2 separate regions of the Homo sapiens genome follow, and region 2 is linked to region 1. The links come from fine-mapping of genetic effects on gene expression. A gene starts in region 1. The other region holds a variant in brackets. All regions are shown on one strand. Distances are between the middles of the regions.

The links. PIP is the estimated chance that this variant, and not a neighbour inherited with it, causes the effect. A credible set is the group of variants that fine-mapping cannot tell apart.
Region 2: its variant is the best candidate, but not a certain one, in a credible set for the expression of DDHD2 in whole blood (TOPMed, PIP 0.60).

What each region holds. Positions count from the first base shown.
Region 1 is chr8:38,227,132-38,239,292 of GRCh38, reverse strand. It overlaps DDHD2 (DDHD domain containing 2), which reads right to left and starts at 7,708. Exons shown (of 18, transcript NM_015214.3): 1 at 7,434-7,708; 2 at 6,079-6,306; 3 at 4,709-4,899; 4 at 1,666-1,755; 5 at 1,084-1,204. The coding sequence starts at 6,298. RefSeq lists an enhancer at 6,907-7,406 and silencers at 7,066-7,735, 8,306-8,355.
Region 2 is chr8:38,253,631-38,265,544 of GRCh38, reverse strand. It overlaps DDHD2 (DDHD domain containing 2), which reads right to left. Exons shown (of 18, transcript NM_015214.3): 16 at 11,827-11,914; 17 at 5,398-5,505; 18 at 2,709-4,945. The coding sequence ends at 5,424. It overlaps PLPP5 (phospholipid phosphatase 5), which reads left to right. Exons shown (of 7, transcript NM_001102559.2): 7 at 941-2,415. The coding sequence ends at 1,101. Among named protein-coding and RNA genes, the nearest start is that of PLPP5, 9.6 kb to the left of the region's middle. The variant ACAAG/G (reference allele first, on the strand shown) is at 4,507.

The DNA.
Region 1 (12,161 bases):
GAGTGATCCTCCTGCCTCAGCCTCCAAAATAGCTGAGACTACAGATGTGTGCTACCATGCCCAGTTAATTTTTGTATTTTTTGTACAGACAGGGTTTCGCCATATTGCCCAGGCTGGTCTCGAACTCCTGGGCTCAAGTGATCCTTCCACCTTGGCCTCCCCAAGTGCTGGGATTACAGGCATGAGCTACCACGTGCAGCCAGGTTTTTAAAACTTTTTATTTCTAAATAACTAGAAATGTACAGAAAACTAGAAAGCATAGTACAGACACTCCCACATACTTTTTACAGAGATTCAACTTTTTAACAATTACATTTGCTTTATGATTCTCTGTGTGTGTACACACACACACACACACATTTATTTTTCTGAATCATTAGAAAGCAGACTACATACATCATCAGGTTGCATGCACCATACCTCTTTAACCCTTTAATACCATAATGTGTATTTCCTAAGTATATTATCTTACATAACCATAATACAGTTATTGAATCCAGGCAACTGAACATTGATAAAATACTTTTATCTAGTATTTCATTTTTATCAATGTTTGGTATGTTTTTAAAGCCTGAAATTTTAAACTCATCTTTTTAAATTACAGTAAAGCTAGGATTTTGTCCAAGAGACAAGAAAAAAGGAATATTATAATCCAATTAAATATATTATAAAACCATAAGTGACCCTACCTAGATAGCAGTGCATAATCAGGTCCTGCTGAAAAACAGTTTTCCTTAGTTGAAAATCTTCAAGGACAAGGAGTTATTACCAGGTATAAATTTCTAGTCAAGTAGGTGGAATCACACTTCTTGGAATTAGGACTAAATCAGTTCATCTGTACTTAGTGACTTCCTGGATAGTATTGCCAAATTTTACCCATCCTACCATATGTTTTAAAAGATATTTTTACATCTATTAAGATTCTTAGTAGACGAAGTGATGCTAATCTCAACTTGGAATAAACCCATATGATTAAAGATGATTTTTAAGCCTTGAGGTAATCTAAATCCACAGAAAAAGGTCACAATTTAAGGAGTAAACAAATACATCCAAAGGTAAGAAAAAATAAACGATTAACATTACCACAATGAATGTCAACAGAGATGTTCTCAACTCCTCTCTTCACAGTTCTTGGTCGACCCTGCTCCGTGGGTGTTGAACCCCAATCATCAGACCCTGCAACTGGCTGGTAATGCACCATAAGCTTAAACAGAACAGATCAGAGCAATAAAAATATTCTGCAATACAATCATCTCTATACAATGCAGTTTTAAGTGTAGAATCATGTCTTTCAAACCACACAGTAAAATCTGAACTGGAGTTTTGATATACAACTCGTATGGCTTGAAATGAGAACCGTGAAAATATATTAGGCTAACAGATCTGTCAATAGTCCCTTTCTACATGGAAGACATGCTCACATAATATGTCAGTGATTTTCTTATTCTACAGTGGCATAATTTTCCATAAGAAAATTATTTTGTATAAGCTGAGTTGGGTAAATAACAGTAGTGGCTACAAGTTTTTAAGTTTCATAACTGTGAATTCAATATAAAATTTGACAAAGGTTATCCTACACAGAGTGCTTAGCAAAAGAAACCAATTGAGTTCTCCCTAATAGCGCAATTAACTTTTTATCCCGACAAGAGAAATGCTTTGTTTTACCTTTGGATTGTGTAAAATAATAATTTCTCTGTTGGGAGATTCCAGTTTCTTTTTCCATTCATCCAAAGTTACAGCAAGCATGTAAGTTTCCTTAAAAGAAAACACATTTCATTAGAGTTCTCTAGTAGCTTTCCTATTAAACTGAACCTATTAACAAGAATACTATGTATTAATGAGTTTCAATAAGAATATCCTACTCCAATTTATCAAATTTATTTTTAAATCTTTTTGTTGTTGTTGTTGTTTGTTTTGTTTTGTTTGTCTTACTCTGTCGCCCAGGCTGGGTTGCAGTGGCACAATCTCGGCTCACTGCAACCTCCGCCCCCCAGGTTCAAGCAGTTCTCTTGCCTCAGTCTCCCAAGTAGCTGGGATTACAGGCACCCGCCACCACATTCGGCTAACTTTTGTAGTTTTAGTAGATACGGGGTTTGGCCATAATGGCTAGGCTGGTCTCAAACTCCTGACCTCAGGTGATCTGCCTGCCTCGGCCTCCCAAAGTGCTGGGATTACAAGCATGAGCCACAGCACCCAGCCTATTTTTAAATTATTTTGAAATTACAACTGATAGTAGCACCAGGACAAAGGGGGAAAAATACTCCTAATTCCATCATCTACGCTAGATAATTAGTGTTCACATTTTAATATATTAATATTAATGTTCTAGACCAGGCGTGGTGGCTCATGCCTGTAATCACAATACTTTGGGAGGCCAAGGCAGGAAGATCACCTGAGGTCTGGCATTCGAGACCAGCCTGGCCAACACGGCAAAACCCCATTTTTACTAAAAATACAAAAATTAGCCAGTGTGAGCCGGGCGCGGTGGCTCACGCCTATAATCCCAGCACTTTGGAAGGCCAAGGCGGGTGGATCACCTGAGGTTGGGAGTTCGAGACCAGCCTGACCAACATGAAGAAATCCCATCCCATCTCTACTACAAATACAAAATTAGCCAGGCATTGTGGCACATGCCTGTAATCCCAGCTACTCGGGAGGCTGAGGCAGGAGAATCGCTTGAACCCAGGAGGCAGAGGTTGCGGTGAGCTGAGATCGCGCCACTACACTACAGCCTGGGAAACAAGAGTGGAACTCCGTCTCAAAAAAAAAAAATTAGCCAGTGTGGTGAGGCACGCTTGTAATCCCAGCTACTTAGGAGGGTGAGGCAGGAAAAGTGCTTGAACCCAGGATGCAGAGGTTGCAGTGAGCCGAGATCGCACCACTGGACTCCAGCCTGGGCAACAGAGTGAGACTCTGTCTCAAAAACAAAAACAAAAACAAAAACAAAAAAAGCAAAAAAAAAAAACCAAAAACAAGAAAAAGGCTGGGCGTGGTGGCTCACGCCTGTAATCCCAGCACTTTGGGAGGCCGAGGCGGGCGGATCACGAGGTCAGGAGCTTGAGACCATCCTGGCTAACACGGTGAAACCCCGTCTCTACTAAAAATACAAAAAATTAGCTGGGCGTGGTGGCGGGCGCCTGTAGTCCCAGCTACTTGGGAGGCTGAGACAGGAGAATGGCAAGAACCCAGGAGGCAGAGCTTGCAATGAGCCAAGATCGTGCCACTGCACTCCAGCCTGGGAAACAGAACGACACTCTTGTTTCAACAACAACAAAAAATACTAACGCTCTACTCCAATTTAAAGAAAAATTTCAGTTTTCAGAGCAAGAAAAATAAAAGCTAAAAAAGATCAATCCTGTGACCATAGCATAATACAGTTTGCATTTGTATTTGTGTGTGTGTGTGTGTGTGTGTGTGTGCGCGTGTACTTTTTTTTGTAGTGGTGGGGTCTTGCTTTGTTGCCCAGGCTGTTCTCAAATTCCTGGGCTCAAGTCATCCTCCTGCCTTGGCCTCACAATGTGCTGGGATTACAGGTGAGAGCCACTGTGCCCACCAGTTTTTTTTTTTTTTTTTGAGATGGAGTTTTGCTCGTTGCCCAGGCTGTAGTTCAATGGTGCGATCTCCACTCACCACAACCTCCACCTCCCGGGTTCAAGCAATTCTCTTGCCTCAGCCTCCCAAGTAGCTGGGATTACAGGCGTGCACCACCGTGCCCAGCTAATTTTGTATTTTTAGTAGAGACGAGGTTTCTCCATGTTGGTCAGGCTGGTCTCAAACTCCCAACCTCAGGTGATCCGCCCACCTCAGCCCCCCAAACTGCTGGGATTACAGGCGTGAGCCACCAGGCCCGGAGTATTTTTTTCTTTTTTTACACCTTAAAACACCACAACCATTTCCATCGTATTTTAAAATCTGAAAAAGGCCAAGCACAGTAGCTCACACCTGTAATCCCAGCACTTTGGGAGGCCGAGGCCAGCAGATCATTTGAGGTCAGGAGTTCGAGACAAGCCTAGCCAACATGGTGAAACCCCATCTCTAATAAAAATCAGTAGGAACAACTCTCCCATTACAATATTTTCCTTTCAAGGATTGAAAAGGGGAAAAGAAGTACATATTTCAAAATAAATCTCCCAACATACAATTCTGAGTTATATTCTAAATAATGTTATGAAACACATGAATGAACAGTTCCTACTTGGCTAAACACCAAACAAAATGGAATCTAATTCATATCTTTTTCACTACCTACTTTACAAACCGTCAAACCATTCCTGATTTTAATGAAACATGAAAAAAAATACTACCCAAACAGTTTTGTTCTTTTTCTGAGGAAAGATAGCAGTGCCCCTTAAAAAAAATTAGCCAGGTGTGGTGGCGGCCACCTGTAATCCCAGCTACTTGGGAGGCTGAGGCATGAGAATCACTTGAACCGGGGAGGTGGAGGTTGCAGTGAGCCAAGATCGCACCACTGCACTCCAGCCTGGGCAACAGAGCGAGACTCCGTCTCAAAAAAAAAAAAAAAATCTGAAAATAAGACTACTTTATCCTGAAACTTGCTTGTAAATAGAAATGCTTTATTATGTTTTATAATGTGATGCAGACAGAACCAAAGTCTTTCTGGAAATTTCACAAAATAAATTACAAAGGAAAGAAAAGATTATTAAATAAGAGAAAGAAAGAATAAGTAAAAAAAGAGTCAAAAGAATACCTCTAAAACTTGGCTGAAGCTCTCCGAGTAGGGAACATACTTATTGTCTTTGTCCCCCTTGTAAAACCACGTACATCGTCTCACTTCCGATGCCAGTTCATCCCAGTATACAGCATACCGCATCCTCTCCCCCAAATGAACATCATATCTGCCCCCATCAGTAGGAACAACTCTCCCATTACAACCTTTTCCTTTCAAGGATTGAAAAGGGGAAAAGAAGTACATATTTCAAAATAAATCTCCCAACATACAATTCTCAGTTATACTCTAAATAATGTTATGAAACACATGAATGAAAAGTTCCTACTTGACTAAACACCAAACAAAATGGAATTTAATTCATATCTTTTTCACTACCTACTTTACAAACCGTCAAAACCATTCCTGATTTTAATGAAATATGAAAAAAATACTACCCAGTTTTGTTCTTTTTCTGGGGAAAGATAGCAGTGCCCCTTAAAAAAATTATATAATGTGATTTTTCTGAATTTGCTTGAGGAACCATAAGGTAAATTAATAACCATCATGATGATTCAGTATAAATAGAATCATTCTTGTTTTATAAAAGAAGAAAAGACAAGTGACAAGTTAGAGAGTTCATTCTTCTGCACCCCACTCTATACATACTTTTTTCTTTTCTTTTCTTTTTTTTTTTTTGAGACAAGTCTCACTCTATCACCCAGGCTGGAGTCCAGTGGCACAATCTTGGCTCACTGTAACCTCCGCCTCCCGGGTTTGAGCAATTCTCCTGCCTCAGCCTCCCAGGTAGCTGAGACTACAGGCACAAACCCCGCCGCCCAGCTAATTTTTGTATTTTTAGTAGAGAAGGGGTTTCACCATTGCTGGCCAGGCTAATCTCAAACTCTGACCTCAAGTGATCTGCTCGCCTTGGCCTCCCAAAGTGCTGGGATTACAGGTGTGAGCCACTGTGCCCAGCCTTACACATTCTTTATAAAACAAAGTAAAACATAAGCTAGAACATTAAAGATATTACTGGGGGGCTGGGCACAGGGTGTAACACGCCTGTAATCCCAGCACTTTGGGAGGCCCAGTCAGAAAGATTGCTTGAACCTAGGAGTTCAAGACCAGCCTAGACAATATAATTAGGCCCCCAACTCTAAGGAAAAAAAAATTATTGGGTAACTATGCAGAAATAATAATAGATACTGTTTTCAAAATACAGACCAAATTCTTGAATATTATTGATTGGCTAGGTATTAGTGCAGAAGTTCTATATAAAATGCTGTAAGAAATTATGTAACTGGAAAAATCTAAAATTTGGTTTTCATAGCACTCACTATAAGGACCATTATATTATAGTTTGAAGAGGGGAGAGTCTTTGTCTATTCCAAGTCATAATTTTCACCTACCAGAGCTATATGCCTCTTCCAGCTGCTGTGAATCCTCAGAGTTGAAAGGAATCCATGTCTCCTTAGAATCTATTATCTTACAATAAAACCAATGGGGAGAAACTGGTTCATACAAGCTGCCAGCATCCATGTCTATTAGCTCAAAGGAACTACATGAGTTTGGTGACGGAGATGGATCTGACTGGGACAACTGCTCCTGTTGTGACTGCACTGATGACATTTCGCTCTCTAAAGACAAAAGAAAACTATCAGGAAAACGAACTTAACTGTGTAACTGTTCGCACACACACACGCACAAAACTAATCATTTTACGGAGCCATTTCTGCAACAACAACAACAACAAAATCTACATAATTTAAAAGAGAAATAACATAAATTAGCAACTGGATGGGTGGAAGCTTTAAATAAAATGCTTCTATTAGATCAACCATTGCACAGAGTTCTCAATTCTCTCAGTAAACTGGGTAATTTTACTCAGTCCATAAGTTATAAAACAAACCCAGAATCACAGGACCACATGCTCGAAACTAGATTGCAACAAAAACATTTTACCCTAATTTCCAATCTAAATGTAGTTAAAGGCAGAAAATTTACTCCAAGTCAGCTGGGTCATGCCCTGTCCTAGTAACGCCAAGGTTTTGGGCTCCAGGCCCCTACCATTACACAACTAATGGAATCTTAAAATACAAAAAATAAAACTGTTCGCTTAGGAACCAATCATTTTTGATGGATCCTTGAAGTCGCTTAATGGGTGGTGGTACAAATTGGGAAAAGACGAAACCTCGCCTGGGGCCACGGTGCGCACACGCACGCCCACTCCCATAGCCAGAATCTCAGATGAAAGCTAACAAGCGACCTCAAAAGCCTCCTCCCGCAGAGGCGGCTCTGACCAGCTGTTTCTACCTCTCCAACACTCCTTCCACTCGGCAACGATCAGCGCCGCAGGCACCAGAAGGACACTTCTAAGCTGCCTCGTAGGGCGGGGGGCAGGAGGGCATCTCGCGCGGGCCCGGCGGGACGGCAGACGCCGGCTTTCGGCTCCATTGTCCTTTTCCCCACACAGACTTACCTCAGCCACCCTGGCGCGCCCCTGGCCCCCGCGACCCTAGGCCCTGGCGCCCCGCTCCGGGCCCTCGGAGCTCGGGCTCAGGTCGTCCGCCCGCAGCCCCGCGACAGCAGCAGGGCAGCCAGTGCAGACCACAGGGTTCACAGGGTGCCCAGGGTTCCCCCAGGCTCGGGGCTTCCCGGGAGCCGAGGTTCCCCCGCCCCGCATCCCGGCCCCGCAGCGCTGCGCCGCCCACCTGCACCCAGCCTGGCCTCCCTCGGTCCAGCCGCCCGCCCGACGCGGTCTCACCTGGCGGCCCCGCCACTCCTCAGGCTCTCCTGCCCTCCCTGAGGAGGACACTGCATGGCCCGGCCGCGGCCTTTACCCCAGCCCGGGCGGGGCGCGGCGGAGCAGGGCGGAACCTGCAGCCCCGCCGGGCTCGCGCCGAACACCAGGCGCCACGGCGCTCCCAGTGGGCGAGTAGCGGGCCCGGATGCCAGGCGAAAAGGTGAGGCGGCGGGGAGCGCGGCGCGCGACCGCGGGTGGGGCGTGCAGGGCCGCAGGGCACGGGCGGCAAGTGTCGCGAGAGGTGGGGGGAGTCGCGCGAGACGTGGCTCCTGCGGGCAGGGAGCTGCAGCGCCGGGCGGCGGGCTGCTGGCTGCTGAGGTCTAACAGTGGGGGAGAGTTTCGAGTGTCCGTGGCGGAAGGGGCTTCGAGATCAGTTTCTAGTATCCGTGACGGCAGGGGCTTCAAGATCAGTTTCGAGTGTCCGTGGCGGAAGAGGCTTCAAGGCGGCCCCTCACGTACGGGGCGGGAAAGTCGGAATGATCCTCGGGATACGCTACAGACCCTACTAGTGCGCCAGGAGCAGCGCGGTGATCACCGGACGCAGGGACTGCGCGGCCCCGGGATTAGCGGAGTAGGGCGGAGGGCGCAGCCACAGCCGCCCCGCTCCTGGCCTCTGCTTCTGGGTGCTGAGAACGGGTGTCACTAGCATTTGCCAGGCAAAAAGGCTTTGGCCCGTCCTCCGTGCATTTATTATGATTTAGAGGTTACCAAAAAGGTATCCCTAAAAAATGTAGAGGTGTCGGGCGTGGTGTCAGCGCCTGGGTCTGAGCTACTCAGGAGGCTGAGGCTGAAGGAGCGCCCCAGCCCATTGGTGCCAGCTGCATGAGCCCAGATGGCGCCAGTGCACTCCAGCCTGGGTAACACTGCGACACTAGTCTCTAAACAAACAATAAAATTAATAATTTTTTTTTGTTTTGTTTTGTAGAGGCAACCTTAACAGGATTTAAAAGATGCCAGGGAGGTTGGAGATGAGATACTGCTGTCCAAACAGGAAGACATAACTGAGGTGAAAAGTTGAAAGGGGCTGGACGCAGTGGCTCACGCTTGTAATCCCAACACTTTGGGAGGCCAGGAGTTCAAGACCAGCCTGGCCAACATGGTGAAACGGCATCTCTACTAAAAATATAAAAATTAGCCGGGGGTGGTGGCTCGCGCCTGTAATTCCAGCTGCTTGGGAGGCTGAGGTGGGAGGATCACTTGAACCCGGGAGGCGGAGGTTGCAGTGAGCCAAGATCGCAGCCACTGCACTCCAGCCTGGGCAACAGAGGGAGACTCCATCTCAAAAAAAGAAAAAAAGAGAAATTTCCCGCAGTCATGAGGTCGAGTACAGGCCCTGCCCGACTCTCCTTAGTATTTCATTTTAATACCTTTTGGTATTTAAAAAGATATTTTCCTATATTCTAACTAGATTATAGGGCATTTTTTTTCAGTTTTTGTGTTTTTGTTTTTTGTTTTTTGTTTTTGAGACGGAGTCTCACTATGTCACCCGGCTGGAGTGCAGTAGCACGATCTCGGCTCACTGCAACCTCCGCCTCCCAGATTCAAGCGATTCTCCTGCCTCAGCCTCCGGAATAGCTGGGATTATAGGCATGCGCCACCGCGCCCAGCTAATTTTTGTATTTTTACTAGAGACGGGGTTTCACCATGTTGGCCAGGATGGTCTCGATCTCTTGACCTCGTGATCCACCCGCCTCGGCCTCCCAAAGTGCTGGGATTACAGGCGTGAGCCACCTTGCCCGGCCTATTTCAGTTTTGTTATTTCTTCACAAACAGAAAAAGAAAACAATTTTTTATAACACATTTATTCTCTTTGCAAATTAACAGCCACACACAAATATCCCCAAGTTAACACCTTCCCTTCAAATTTATTACACTTAGAATAGCTTCTGCAAGGCCGGGCACAGCGGCTCACGCCTGTTAATCTCAGCACTTTGGGAGGCCCAGGCAGGCCGATTTAGCAAGGGGTGGAGCTAAAATCACGAACCCACACAGTGTGACTTCAGAGCCTGCACCTAAGTAACTTGTCTAAAATCAGTCAGGTAAGTGACAGAACTGGAACTTGAATTTAGGTTTTCTATCTTCAAATCCTGTTGTAGCCTCCATACCAGCTGTTCTCAAATTTGGAGGGCTGTCTCAAAAAAAAAGTGGATTGCAATGTGCAGTTTGAAAATATATCAGTAAACTTCACATATTCTGATACTATTAAAATCCATTTTTCTGTCTTGCACTTTGTTTTATTTTTGTTGTTTTGAGTAAAGTGAAAGCAAGTTTATTAAGAAAGTAAAGGAATAAAAGAATGGCTACTCCATAGGCAAAGCAGCCTATCTTGCACTTTGAATGGATCTCTTACCCATGTGTGACTTAAGACATGTATTGTTCATTTGGGAAAGTATCAGTTCACTGAGCTATGTAGATCTTCCAAATGTTAATATATTTTATTATACAATTTTTTAAAAATTACCGATCTCATCAGAAAAGTCTTTAATATTGGGAAGCTGTCAAGCTCAGAGTAGCAGGTACAAGTTTTCCAATATTCTGCTTTTTTCTTAAAAGGTCAAATTTTATCATTGGCAACAAATGATAAATTGTCTTCCTTGAAGTGACAAGTCTCCTTTGTTTTCAAATAAATTTCTGCTAAATACTTACATACAAATAGCCATAGTTTGTCCCTTATACTTTCAAATAAAAATGATGTTGCATGAAAAAAGAGCATCTAGTTCAGCTTCCAATTCAAATAGTCACTCAAGTTCTTTTTCTTCAAGACACCACCATCTTACTTTTGGTATGCAACAAAATGGTTTTATGGGCCACAGTGACTCATGCTGTAATCAAGCACTTTGGGAGGCTGAGGCTGGCGGATTGCATGAGTCCAGAAGTTTGAGACCATCCTGAGCAACATGACGAAACCCACCTCTAAAAAAAAAAAAAAAAATTAGCTGAGCATGGTGGCACAGACCTATAGTCCCAACTACTCAGATGGCTGAGGCGGGAGAATGGCTTGAGCCCAGGAAGGGGAGGTTGCAGTGAGCCGTAATCACTATATCTGGTTAATTTTTAAATTTTTCTTAGAGACAGGGTCTCACTACATTGCCCAGTCTGGTCTTGAACTCTAGGCTCAAGTGATCCTCCCACTTCGGCCTCCTAAAGTGCCCAGCAGGAATCTGCATTTTAAATAGTTACCACACATGATCTGGATGCAAGTATTTGGGATCCACACAGTATAAATTTTAGGTTCCCCAAAAGTCTGCATACATAGGTAGTTTCAGACAAATAGAATATCTTACTGTGCCCCTTAAAAATAAAAACCCATGGCCGGGCGCGGTGGCTCATGCCTGTAAAAACTTTGGGAGGCTGAGGCGGGTGGATCACGAAGTCAGGAGATCGAGACCATCCTGGCTAACACGGTGAAACCCTGTTTCTGCTAAAAATACAAAAAATTAGCCAGGCTTGGTGGTGGGCTCCTGTAGTCCCAGCTACTCAAGAGGCTGAGGCAGGAGAATGGTGTGAACCCGGGAGGCGGAGCTTGCAGTGGCTGAGATCTTGCCACTGCACTGCAGCCTGGGCGACAGAGCGAGACTCTGTCTTAAATAATAAATAATAAAAACACACTTAATGTTACTGGCTGTTGTTTGTGGTTGTATATCAGCCTTTTACCAGACAAGCCTTAACAGGTAAAATGTAAAACAATCTCTACTTTTTCCCTTTCAATGTTCTAGTGCAAGAGGCAGCGAACTTTTTTTCTGTAAAGGGCCAGATAAATTCTTTAGGTTCTGTAGGCCATAAGGCTCTGTCACAACTAATCACTTCTCCTGTTGCAGCACTAAAGCAACCAGAGAGGAGATGTAAACTGATGAGTGTGGCTGTGTCCCAGTAAAGTGCAGGCAGGGGTTTAATTTGATCTCAGGTAGTAGCTTGCTGACCCCATGCTCCTAGTGCAGAAGATAACGCTAATGGCCAGTAAGTTGTTTAAAGAGCAAAACCAAGAATGTAGGGGTCATAAACAACTGGATCTTATATCCAAAGCTGGAATCATTGTTTTTAGAGGCAGAAGTCCTCAATCCCAGATTAACACCTAGGCATCCAGAGTGAAGAAAACTTCACAGTTGTCTCTGACGCTGACTATACAATAACAAGACCAGGGCTTTGGGCTCTGACAGTGATTTTCAAACTTTCACCACTCACTGCAGCTTCGACCTCCCAGGCTCAGATGATCCTCCTACCTCAGCCTTCCAAGTAGCTGAGATCACAGGTGTGCACCACCACATCCTGCGAATTTTTTTATTTGTAGAGACAGGGTCTTACTATGTTGCCCAGGCTGGTCTCAAACTCCTGGGCTCAAGCGATCCTCCCACTTTGGCCTCCCAAAGTGCTGGGATTACAGGCATGAGCCACCACACCCAGGCCTAAGTAGGTTCTTAAAATGTAGATTTTCAGATCCAACATGATCTGAAATGTAGATTCAGAAACATAGATTAAAACGTAGATTTTCAGAATCCAACAAGATTCTGATTTGACTAGAACACTTAATCAGAGGGGTCCATATTGTGATGGTTAATTTTAGGTGTCAGCTTGACTAGATTAAGGAATACCTAGAGAACTGGTAAAACATTACTTCTGGGTGTGTCTGTGATGTGTCTGTGAGGGTGTTTCCAGAAGAGATTGGCATGTGAGGTGGTGAACAAACCTCTT
Region 2 (11,914 bases), 26 kb before region 1:
GTGAGGTAGGTGGATCACCTGAGGTCAGGAGTTGAAGACCAGCCTGACCAACAGTGAAACGCTATCTCTACTAAAAATACAAAATCAGCTGGGCATGGTGGCACACGCCTTTAATCCCAGCTACTTGGGAGGCTGAGGCAGGAGAATGGCTTGAACCTGACACAATTCCAAAAAAAACGCTGGAGGTATTGCCCACAGGTCCTCAGGAACCCTATTTTAAATTTTTAAATAAACTAGTTTTTTGCAAAGAGAAGCAACTCTTTTTTTTTTTTTTTTTTTTGAGACAGAGTCTAGCTCTGCGCCCAGGCTGGAGTGCAGTGGCACCATCTCGGCTCACTGCAACCTCCACCTCCTGGGTTCAAGCAAGTCTCCTGCCTCAGCCTCCTGAGTATCTGGGATTACAGGCACATGCCACCACGCCCGGCTAATTTTTGTATTTTTAGTAGAGACAGGGTTTCACTTGTTGGTCAGGCTGGTCTCAATCTCCTGACCTCGGGATCCATCTGCCTGGTCCTCCCAAAGTGCTGGGATTACAGGCGTGAGTCACCGTGCCCGGCGAGAAGCAACTCTTAAAATACTTTATTCCTTCCTCTAGGACCCTTTAAATGGTGAAAATGGGCAGATGAATAGCAATAAGTGGACCTTTGTTACTCTTCTGAGTTAGAAAAATTCTAATTTAGTACACTCTGAACAAAGCTTATTATACTTACTTAAGATGTGTTTTGATTTGGTGTTCAGAAAGCAACCTGACAATGATAATACTGTAACTATGATAAAATTGAGAATAAAAAGATTTTATTTAGAAATCATAAGTCTGGAATTGAGGTTATTTTAGCCCCACAGTAGAGTATCCTGGAGGGCCAGGTCCTCTATGCTATGTGTATGTAATAGGATTTAGGAGCCTAATATTAAGAGAAGACCTTGTTTCCACTCTCTTCAGATGTACTAGTTGGATCCATGATTGGAATGACATTTGCCTATGTCTGCTATCGGCAGTATTATCCTCCTCTGACTGATGCAGAATGCCATAAACCATTTCAAGACAAACTTGTACTTTCCACTGCACAGAAGCCTGGGGATTCTTATTGTTTTGATATTTAAAAATTGAATCTGGCCGGGCGTGGTGGCTCATGCCTGTAATCCCAACACTTTGGGAGGCTGAGGAGGGTGGATCACCTGAGGTCAGGACCAGCCTGGCCAACATGGTGAACCCTGTCTCTACTAAAAATACAAAAATTAGCCAGGAGTTGTGTGCCGTAATCCCAGCTACCTGGGAGGCTGAGGTAGGAGAATTGCTTGAACCTGGGAGCTGGAGGTTCCAGTGAGCCGAGATCGCACCACTGCACTCCAGCCTAGGCAACAGAGTGAGACCCCATCTCAAAAAAAAAAAAAATTGAATCTATCTCAATAGAGAACAGGTGAACTAGCCCTCCTAACCGGACCATGCACAAGACAAGAAATTCTAGCCTTTTTTTCCCCTTCCAAGGTGCAAGTGAGGACATAAGCCACACTGTATTCTGCCTCCAAATGATTACACACTTTTGCCCCTGCTCATCTATCTTGAGGAGTTACGGTTCTTTTCCACTACTGTATGCCACATGTTCTAGTAAAAGGATCTTTCAAAGGTGTCCAACACCTTATGAATCTGGTCTATCAGATTAATATCTGAAGATCTACAGTGTTTTTACATTTAATTTAAATGCCATTCTTAGAAGGATCTTGTCACAAAGAAGCCTTTACATAGCCCCACCTTGTCTCAGAAGCTAGAGTTCATTATCAAAACTTAATTTCCATTTCATATAGCTCAAAATCTTAAAATCTAGGGCATGGCCAACTAAATTACTTTGATTCTGTTTACCTTCTCTGATGACAATTCCATCAAGCCTTAAATAGGAAAATGTCGAATCTAGGGTAATTTATCACTTTTGTGTGCATCTTATCTGAGTCCAGCCATCTGGTACTGCTGTGCATTTTGAACACCGTGGGCATAAACAATTTGTTGAATTACTAAGTGAAAACAATAATAAAGAAGAAAATGGTCAGGAGTGTGGTTTCAGCACTACTAACAGATGACTGTTTCTACCTCATTTGACCATAACTGTACTTGTGAGCTTCTTTCCTTCCATTCATGACTGAAGATCTGCTCAAATGCACCAACACTGCCAAGTGACTAAGGTAGAAAAGAAAAATGACAGGTATCGTCATCTGAAGGACAGATGAATCTTTTTCTGCCCCTTCTTCACAATGGAATATAAGGAACAATTATGGGATGTCATCAGAATGGATGCCATAGGACCTACAGCTCCCTTTCTCTTTATTGTGATTATACTTTAAATATGACATTGTCTTTTATGTGTATGTTCCTATATTTTCAATGTATCTTTTTCCTTCAGTAAACCTGATATTCAAATAAAATGGTAAATGTGTGCTTTTTTAAATATTTAAAGTACATTAAGGGGCTGGAACTTTAGTAAAGCAAAACATTGAATTCCCCATCCGCCCTAAGTGATTCAACTGCTGTTATCTATAGTACTGGCTAATATTTATAAATACCAAAGGAAAGTCTCTTATAATTGCCATGCTTTAAATTCTGAACTTAAATTCTGCCTATGACAATTAAAATACCAGTCAACAGGAAAGAACTTACATATTAGTTCTTTGCCCAAAACCTATTTTTTTGTTTTAGTAATACATAAAGACAGAGAAAATCGTGACTGTACTGATTTTCTTGACTTTGAGACGGGTGAGTCCAGGTAAAAGTAGGCCACTAGTCAATATGGTTTCATGTTAGTATTTACTAAAGTTTTAAATATAATCACGTAGAAAACAAACATTTCAAAAATGCAAAATATTAGAAATCTAATCAGTGCTATTAATCTTTCCATGCAAACAATCTCTTTTGCTGAGATAAGTGATACTAGTTCTGCAGCTGGGAATATGTACAAAATGATGCTGTACCAGAGTTTAAAAATAGGGTTGGTCTAGAGATTGCACATGATACAAATGAAGCAGCGCAAATAATATATGACTAAATACAGGATTTCAATCAAGCTTATCATCCTGGGAATATACAGCTATAATACCATGAATAGACAAGATATAAAGCTCTTTCACAGTTACCCACCCCTCACCACTAGGAAAGAAACATTTCTTAATACAAAGAGTGGTTTATCTGGCTATCCAGGGCTATGCTGTCCATCTTTGGTTATAGGGACTCCCTCTGCTTATCCTTTGGTTTACTCTTAAATAGCACCTATTCTGCCAATAGGAAGAGTAAACATAAATTTGAAGACCACAACTTGGCAAAAGCTTCCCCTTAATATACAGTGAATACTTAATTCTCAATAACTCAGAGTTTATATACCTTTAAAAAAATAAAGTATTCCATATATCTGAAACTTAGTGGCATACTTAGCACTAGACTATAAGCAGATGACAAAGAAAGGCCAGGCCTGACCTATACCCCAACCTTACCTCTACAATCTCCATGGTGACAGTAATTACCCTTCATTTTCCTTTTCTTTCCAGAAAGGGATAAAGACCACTGCTGTCTAAGGAATGGCTTCAGTAAATATTAAATGTCAGTGGCTTTGAATACCATAACATTTATAAAAAAATTTATAAACAATAAACCACAGCTCGCCTGCCTTTGCCACTCTATAAACAGAGGCCTGTGGAATCTGAGAGCAAGTATAAAGGATTATCATAAAGAGAACTACAAAGACAATGACAAACTGACCAATGAAGAAGAAAAATCTACAGCAAAGTAGTGAAAAGATGCCTTGACAAAATTAGTGTGCAGTCACTTGTGTTCTTAGAAGTAAACCTCACTTCATATGTTCCAGACTCAGCTGACACTGACTCTGGAATAGCTGTTTCTTGGACCCTACAGACATAAGTTTTTCTTTCAGAACAAGTTAAACATTTCCCCCTAGCCAAACCTACCTGCTCAACCAATGCTGCCCGTGCCAAGAGCCTTTTAAATATGCTTTGTGGATTATGGATACCTAAGAAGGAAAGAGGATACACAATACTACCTTAGCTCAAGTAGAAATGGCAGGTGACAAATTCTGTTTCACCATAAAGGCACCACTAAAAGGTTTTATTTAGAACCTCAGCAGCCTGTAGAGGCTACACAATTTCAGGTTCATCAGCTTTTACAACTATTTTCAACGTAAGAATAGAAGCTATTAGCAAATAACTTCTATCAAATATAAAAGGGAGGCCTAGGATATACAACATCTTTGCTTTATAAAGATGCACCTAACATGAACTAACTTGTCAACTTTAGACTCTTACAGCAGCTCAAACAGTTGCAAAAACAATGAACATCAGTGATTTCTGGCAATAAGTCTGTCAGTTCTAAGAGAGTAAACAACACTTTTTTAAAGCTACATTCTAGTCTTTCTTCATACACTACACATAAGAAAGAAATGCAGGTTCAAAAATAAATCACCCAAAAGTCTTTTCCATGTCCACTGAGACTTAGCCTTCAGTTCAACACAA[ACAAG/G]AGATAAGTGTACTCCAAAATGCCTTCTGAATCTCAAGAATCTGTTTCCAAACTAGAACATTTTCTAAAGATAAGCAATAAGTTCCTTAAAAACATGTCTACCCCACCCAAAACAAATCAAACCCAAAATAGGCTTTACACCCTGTCAAGTACTAATCAATAAAGTGTGGCAACTATAAACTATCATCAAAGAATTAAAGACACAAACCACCCCCAGCTATGCAGAAAAAAATGGCAAGTGTTTATATGAAGCCAGTGGTTAAAAGTAATAGGGCCTTTTGCTTTTCCATTCATTTCCAAAGAGGAAGATTATCTTCCAAAGACCCCAGTGGTGAGTAAGTGGCAGGCAACATGCAGGAAATGACGCAGCTGAGGAGAGGAAAATTGCAGCAACAAACAGGTGGATTTTCTGGGGAAGGATCCCTCAATGTCCGTCTAGGGAAGAAAGTGGGAGAAGAGCTGCAGTCACAACTGGAAGGCAACCACAGAGAATGCCAGAGTCGAATACACAGACTTTGTAATTTCACATCTAAAAGGCTGAGTAATTTAAATCTCAGGATGGGTGGTTGGTAATTAAAATCATAACTGTTGCCACAGTAACTCTTAGATAACAGAACCATTAAAACTCTGAGTTTAGATCCTAAAAAATGACAGGTGTCATTGGACAAAATCTCTAGCAAAACAGACATACACTAATCTTCCTCTAAATGGGCTACTGTGTTTTTTTCCCCATGAATTTCTACCAGTCCCTCTAAAAATGAATAGCAGCCTAGATCTTGGTGACAGGCAACAGCTAGTATATTTAAAAAGAGCTTGAGGCTCCATAGTTCATTATAACATGTTAATATGTAAGAATTACACTATATATATGACATTTTAAAACTTACATTAAGCAGCCATAGATGGGTCATTTTTACTGTAAAGGCTGATCAAGGAAGATACCCTGGGTTTGGTAGATCTCTTTGAGGACGAGCAATACTGTATCTTCAGACTCCCTATAAAGAGAAAAAATTATGTTGAGAAAAGGAACTAACACTTGTGCCAAATGTTTTACATATATTATCTCATTTAATCCATACAACCATCTTGCAAGTTTATTTTTTACTTCTGCAAAGAAATGAGATTCAGAAGTAATGTAATTGGCAGTGGTTTGGAAGGTGACCTGGCAAAGAACTCTGGCATTAAGTCTAGTAATATAAAAAAGCTAGGAAGAGAGGCCAGGTGCGGTGGCTCATGCCTGTAATCCTAACACTCTGGGAGGCTGAGGTGGACAAGTCACTACAGGTCTGGAATTTGAGCCAGCCTGGCCAACATGGTGAAACCCCATCTCCACTAAAAATACAAAAACTAGGGCTGGGCACGGTGGCTCACGCCTGTAGTCCCAGCACTTTGGGAGGCCAAGGTGGGTGGATCACAAGGTCAGGAGTTTGAGACCAGCCTGGCCAATATGGTGAAACCCCATCTCTACTAAAAATACAAAAATTAGCAGGGTGTGGTGGTATGCGCCTGTAGTCCCAGTTACTGGGGAGACTGAGGCAGAAGAATTGCTTGAACCCAGGAAGCGGAGGTTGCAGTGAGCCGAGATTGCACCACTGCACTCCAGCCTGGCAGATAGGCGAGACTCCGTCTAAAAAAAAAAAAAAAAAACTAGCCAGGCGTGGCAGCATGCGACTGTAGTCCCAGCTACTCAGGAGGCTGAGGCAGGAGAATCGCTTGAACCGAGGAGGCAAAGGTTGCAGTGAGCCGAAGGTTGCAGAGTGTCACTGCACTTCAGCCTGGGCGACAGAGTGAGACTCCATTTCAAAAAAAAAAAAAGCCAGTAAGAAATAACCAAGAATTGTTCCTTTTCCACAGAGATCATTCTAGAGACACTATTGAAGAGTTATCCAGTTGGTCACCTTAATTTTTAAAATATTATGCACTTTTTGGAAAAGGTAATACAATCATAAGGTTCCAAATTCCAACAATATAAGAAAGTAACGAAGTCTCCCTCCCACCTTTGTTCCTCAACCACCACCAGTTCCCATCTTCTGACAACCAATGTTATCAATTTCTCATGCGTTTTCCAGATATTATTCTACGTATGCACAAGCAATTACTTATATCCACACTTCATAACAAAATTTGATTTAAAAAGATTAACACTCATGAGGGACTGCCTTAAGGATATAAGCCTCTATTATTCTTCTAGATCTGTGGTTCAACATTTATTGAGTCATGCATCCTTTTGAGAATCTAATGAAATTACGGATTCTTCCCCAGAAAGGATCACATTGCAACCACAATTATAAATGTGTATTTCATTGGATTCACAGACTTCCCTCATCTCCCACAAACTCATATACACAGACCCCAGCTTAAGAAATTCCTGTATCAACAAGTGGGAATTAGCTCTATCAGATATTAAAATGGTACATAAATAAGCAAATCAACAAGTAAGAAGTTGAGAAATAGTCCCATTTATGTATAGGAATTTAATTAAGTGGCCAGGCACGGTGGCTCACACCTATAATCCTAACACTGGGAGGTCGAGGCAGGCAGATCACCTGAGGTCAGGCGTTCGAGACCAGCCTGGCCAACATAGTGAAACCCCATCTCTACTAAAAATACAAAAATTAGCTGGGCATGGTGGCACATGCCTATAGTCCCGGCTACTCAAGAAGCTGAGGCAGGAAAATCATTTGAACCCAGATGGCGTAGGTTGCAGTGAGCCAACTACTGCACTACTGCACTTCAGCCTGGGCAACACAGCAAGACTCTGTCTCAAAAAAAAAAAAAAGAATTTAATTAATTTAATTTAGAATCTCAAATCTATTAATAGTGTTGAGACGTGGGGAAAAAAGGACCTGAATCTGAATCAAAGATTTATATGTAAAAATTAGATATAAAATATTAGAATAGCCAGGCATGGTGTTGCACACCTGCAGTCCCAACTACTCAGGAGGCCAAGGCAAGAGGATTGCTTGAGCCCAGGAATTCAAGGGTCTAGTGCACTAAGATCATGCCTGTGAGAAGCCACTGCATGCAAGATCCTGTTTCTAAAAAAAATTATATATATAACAATATACTGTGTTGGCTGGGTGCAGTGGCTCACGCCTGTAATCCCAGCACTTTGGGAGGCTGAGGTGGGATCACTTGAGGTCAGGAGTTTGAGACCAGCCTGACCAACATGGTGAAACCCTGTCTCTACTAAAAAGACAAAATTAGCCAGGTATGGTGGTGCACACCTGTAATGCTGGCTACTTGGGAGGCTGAGGCAGGAGAATCACTTGAACCTGGCAGGCAGAGGTTGCAGTGAGCCGAGATCACACCATTGCACTCTGGCCTGGGCAACAGGGTGAGATTCCATCTCAAAAAAAAAAAAAAAAAAAATACTGTGGTAAGAATTTTTTTGGAAAGTAAGGAAGATCTTTCTGAGTATGACACAAATTCCAGAAACCAAAAAGCAAATGACAACACATTTGATTACATAAAAATAAAAATTTTGAGCAGGCGCAGTGGCTCATGCCTGTAATCCCAGCACTTTGGGAGGCAGGGGCAGGTGGATCACCTGAGGTCAGAAGTTTGAGACCAGCCTGGCCAACATGGTGAAACCCCATCTCTACTAACAATACAAAAATTAGCTAGGCATGGTAGCGCACACCTGTAATCCCAGCTACTCAGGAAGCTGAGGTACAAGAATTGCTTGAACCTGGGAGGCAGAGGTTGCAGTGAGCCAAGATCGTGCCACAGCACTCCAGCCTGGGTGACAGAGTGAGACTCCTTCTCAAAAAAAAAAAAAAAAAAAAAAAAAAAACTTGTTGGCCAGATATGGTGGCTTACACCTGTAATCCCAGCACTTTGGGAAGCCAAGTGGGAGGATCACTGGAGCCCAGGAGTTCAAGACCAGCCTGGGCAACATGGCAAAACCCCATTTCCACAAAAAAATTTGAAAAATTAGCTGGGCATAGTGTTACACACCTGTGGTCCTAGCTACTCCCAGCTGCTCAGGAGGCTGAGATGGGAGGATGGCTTGAGTCCAAGGTCAAGGCTGCAGTGAGCTATAATCGCACCACTGCACTCCAGCCTGGGTGATAGAGTGAGACTGCCTCACAAAAATAAAAATAAAAAATAAAAAAAAGTTGATGTGGAGCAACTGAAACTCTCAAACACTGCTGATGGAGATGTAAACTGCTGGTGGCAAAACAGTTTGGCAGTTTCTTTTAAAAATACACTTCCATATAGTATCCACCCATTCCATTCCTATTTACCCAAGAATATGTCCATGTAAAGTCTTATACATGAATGTTCCTAGCAGCTTTGTTAATAGCCAAAAACTGGAAACTATCAAAATATCCATCAACAGGTAAATGGACAAACTGATATATCCATATAATGGAATACTACTCAGCAATAAAAAGGATATGCTATTGATATACACAACATTGATCATGTCTATAATACCAACAGCTTGGGGGGCCAAAGCAAGAGGACTGCTTGAGGCCGGGAGTTTGACACCAGCAGGGGCAACATAGTGAGACCCCATCTCTACGAAAATAAATTTAAAAAAAATTAGGCCCAGTGGCACATGCCTGCAGTCCCAGCTTCTTGGGAGGCTGAGATGGGAGGATCCCTTGAGCCTAAGAGGATCCCTTGAGCCCAGAGATCTAGGCAACAGTGAGCCATGATTGTGTCACTGCACTCCAGCCTGGATGACAGAACAAGACTATCTCAAAAAAATAAATAAATAAATAAATAAGCTAAACGCCAAACAACAAAAGTATATACTGTAGGATTCCAAATACAAGTCATAAGCAAACTAATCTACAGTGGCAGAACAGAGCAGTGGCTCCCTGGAAATTAGGAGGAGTGGGGAAGAGAAAAGAAGGGAGGGATTACAAAAGGCACAAGGAAACTTTTGAGAGTGATGAATATGTTAAGTTGATTGTAGTGATGGCTTCACAGGTGTATACATGTCAAAACTCATCAAATGTGTATTCTTTTAATATGTACAGTATATTGTACATTTTCACCCAACAAATTGGCAAAGATTTAAAAATATTAAAACTGTTGGAAAAGCTGTGGAGAAACACACACTTTCGTACATTATTGCTGGGAGTATAAAAAGGTACAACCTCTTATTTGTCAATATTTATCAAATTTTACAAATGTATATACCCTTTATGCCATTGATTTCAATTCGAAGTATTTTACATTACAGATATACTCATGAGTAGGTGAAATGACATGAACAAGGTGTGTGCAAAAGAAAAGGAAACCTGAAAGTCCATGAGTAGAGGACGGCTTAAATAAATTATGGTGTATTTACATAACGGAAGACTATGCAGCTAAAAAAAAAAATGAGGAAACAACATATAATAGGTTAAAAAATGCCAAGATATACTAGTAGAAAAAACAAGGCACAGAACATTGCCTTTAATTTACTATTTATGTTTTTAAAATAAGGGAAAGAATATATTCACATACATATATTTATTATGGAGGCATAAAATAGATGGCTGGAAGACATTTTACATTAGTTGTATATGGGGAAGAAACTGATTGCAAGAAACAAAATAAAAAAGAGGCTTTTCATTATTTTTCTTTCTTTGAATTTCAAACCATATGAATGTACTGCCCACACAGAAATATTAAAAGAACTCTGCTTTCTTTTCTATCAAGCCAGATCACCAGAGATCATTCTTAGCATTATTTTAGCCCCTTACAAGATTGCTTTTGGCCTCTACTGTATATATTATATACAAACGATAGTGATTGCATCAGATGATAATTCCTCATCAGAATTCAAGGGAAAAATTATTCTTAGGACCTTTGAGCTTGCTTTTTTTTTTTTTTTTTTTGAGATGGAGTCTCGCTCTGTCACCCAGGCTGGACTGCGGTGGCCGTGATCTCGCTCACTGCAACCTCTGCCTCCCAGGTTCAGGCAATTCTCCTGTCTCAGCCTCCCTAGTAGCTGGGACTACAGGCATGCACCACCACACCTGGCTAATTGTATTTTTGGTAGAGACAGGATTTCGCCATGTTGGCCATGCTGGTCTGAGCTTTCATTTTTAAAACACTTATCTCTGACCCATCTTATTTCCCTTACTTTATTTTTATGTCAACTTCTTCAGGGATTAATTAGTATTATTTTATACTATTTTTTTTCAGACATGGTCTCGCTCTGTCACTCAGGCTAGGGTGCGGTGGCACCATCATGGCTCACTGCAGCCTTCAACTCCTGGCCTCAAGCAATCCTCCTTCCTCGGCCTCCCAAAGTGCTGGGATTATAAGCATGAGCCACCATACCCGGCCTGAATTTCAATAAGCATCATTAATCCATTCTACAATCCATCAGGTAACCAATTATATTTAATAATAATTCTGCCCAGGCGTGGTGGCTCATGCCTGTAATTCCAGCACTTTGGGAGGCAGAGGTGGAGGCGGATTGATTGCTTGAAGTTTAGACCAGCCTGGGCAACATGGCGAAACCCTGTCTGTACAAAAATTAGCTGGGCATGGTGGTGCACAACGGTCATCCTACTTATTAGGGAGACTGAGGGGGGAGGATCACTTGAGTCCAGGAGGTCAAGGCTGCAGTGAACCATGAGCATGCCACTGCACTCCAGCCTGGGTGACACAGCAAGACCCTGTCTCAAATAATGATAAAATAATAATAATTAATTCTGTCACAGCTACCATAAATGCTTTCAAATGGGTTTGCTATAAGACTTCCAGCAACAGTAATATTTGTTCCAGTTCATTCATGTGCACCTAAATGGCCAAAAGACACATTTTTAACACCAAGATAATTGAACTTATGGTTGTTGGCATCATTAGCCTCAACCATGTTCTACCCAGCTGCAAAATAAAACAACAGTGTGTTTAAACCAGATTCTTGAAATGACATGATTGTGCTTGTGCTGTCTAAATGAGAAGTCATTTTAATTCCAAAGGTACACAGGTCTTTTTTTTTTTTTGAGACAGGGTCTTGCTCTGTCACCCAGGCTAGAGTGCAGTGGTGTGATCATGGCTCACTGTGGTCTCAAACTCCTGGGCTCAAGTGACTCTCCTGCCTCAGCCTCCCAAGTAGCTGGGACTATAAGCGCATACCACCACGCCCAGCTAATTTAGTTTTTGTAGAGATGAGGTCTTGCTATGTTTCCCAGGCCGGTCTCAAACTCCTGAACTCAAGCAATCCTCCCACCTTGGCCTCCCAAAGTGCTGAGATTATAAGCCTGAGCCAATGCACCTGGCCTATCCTCCTTTTTCTACATCTATCAAATATCTATGAAACAGGTAAACAAACAAAACAGACAAAAATAAACAACATTTACCAGTAGCATAGATGGCTTTGTAAAGCAAATAAATACTCATTAAAACTTTCAATAGGCTTCTCCTGTAGCACATAGTCAATGCGTTGGC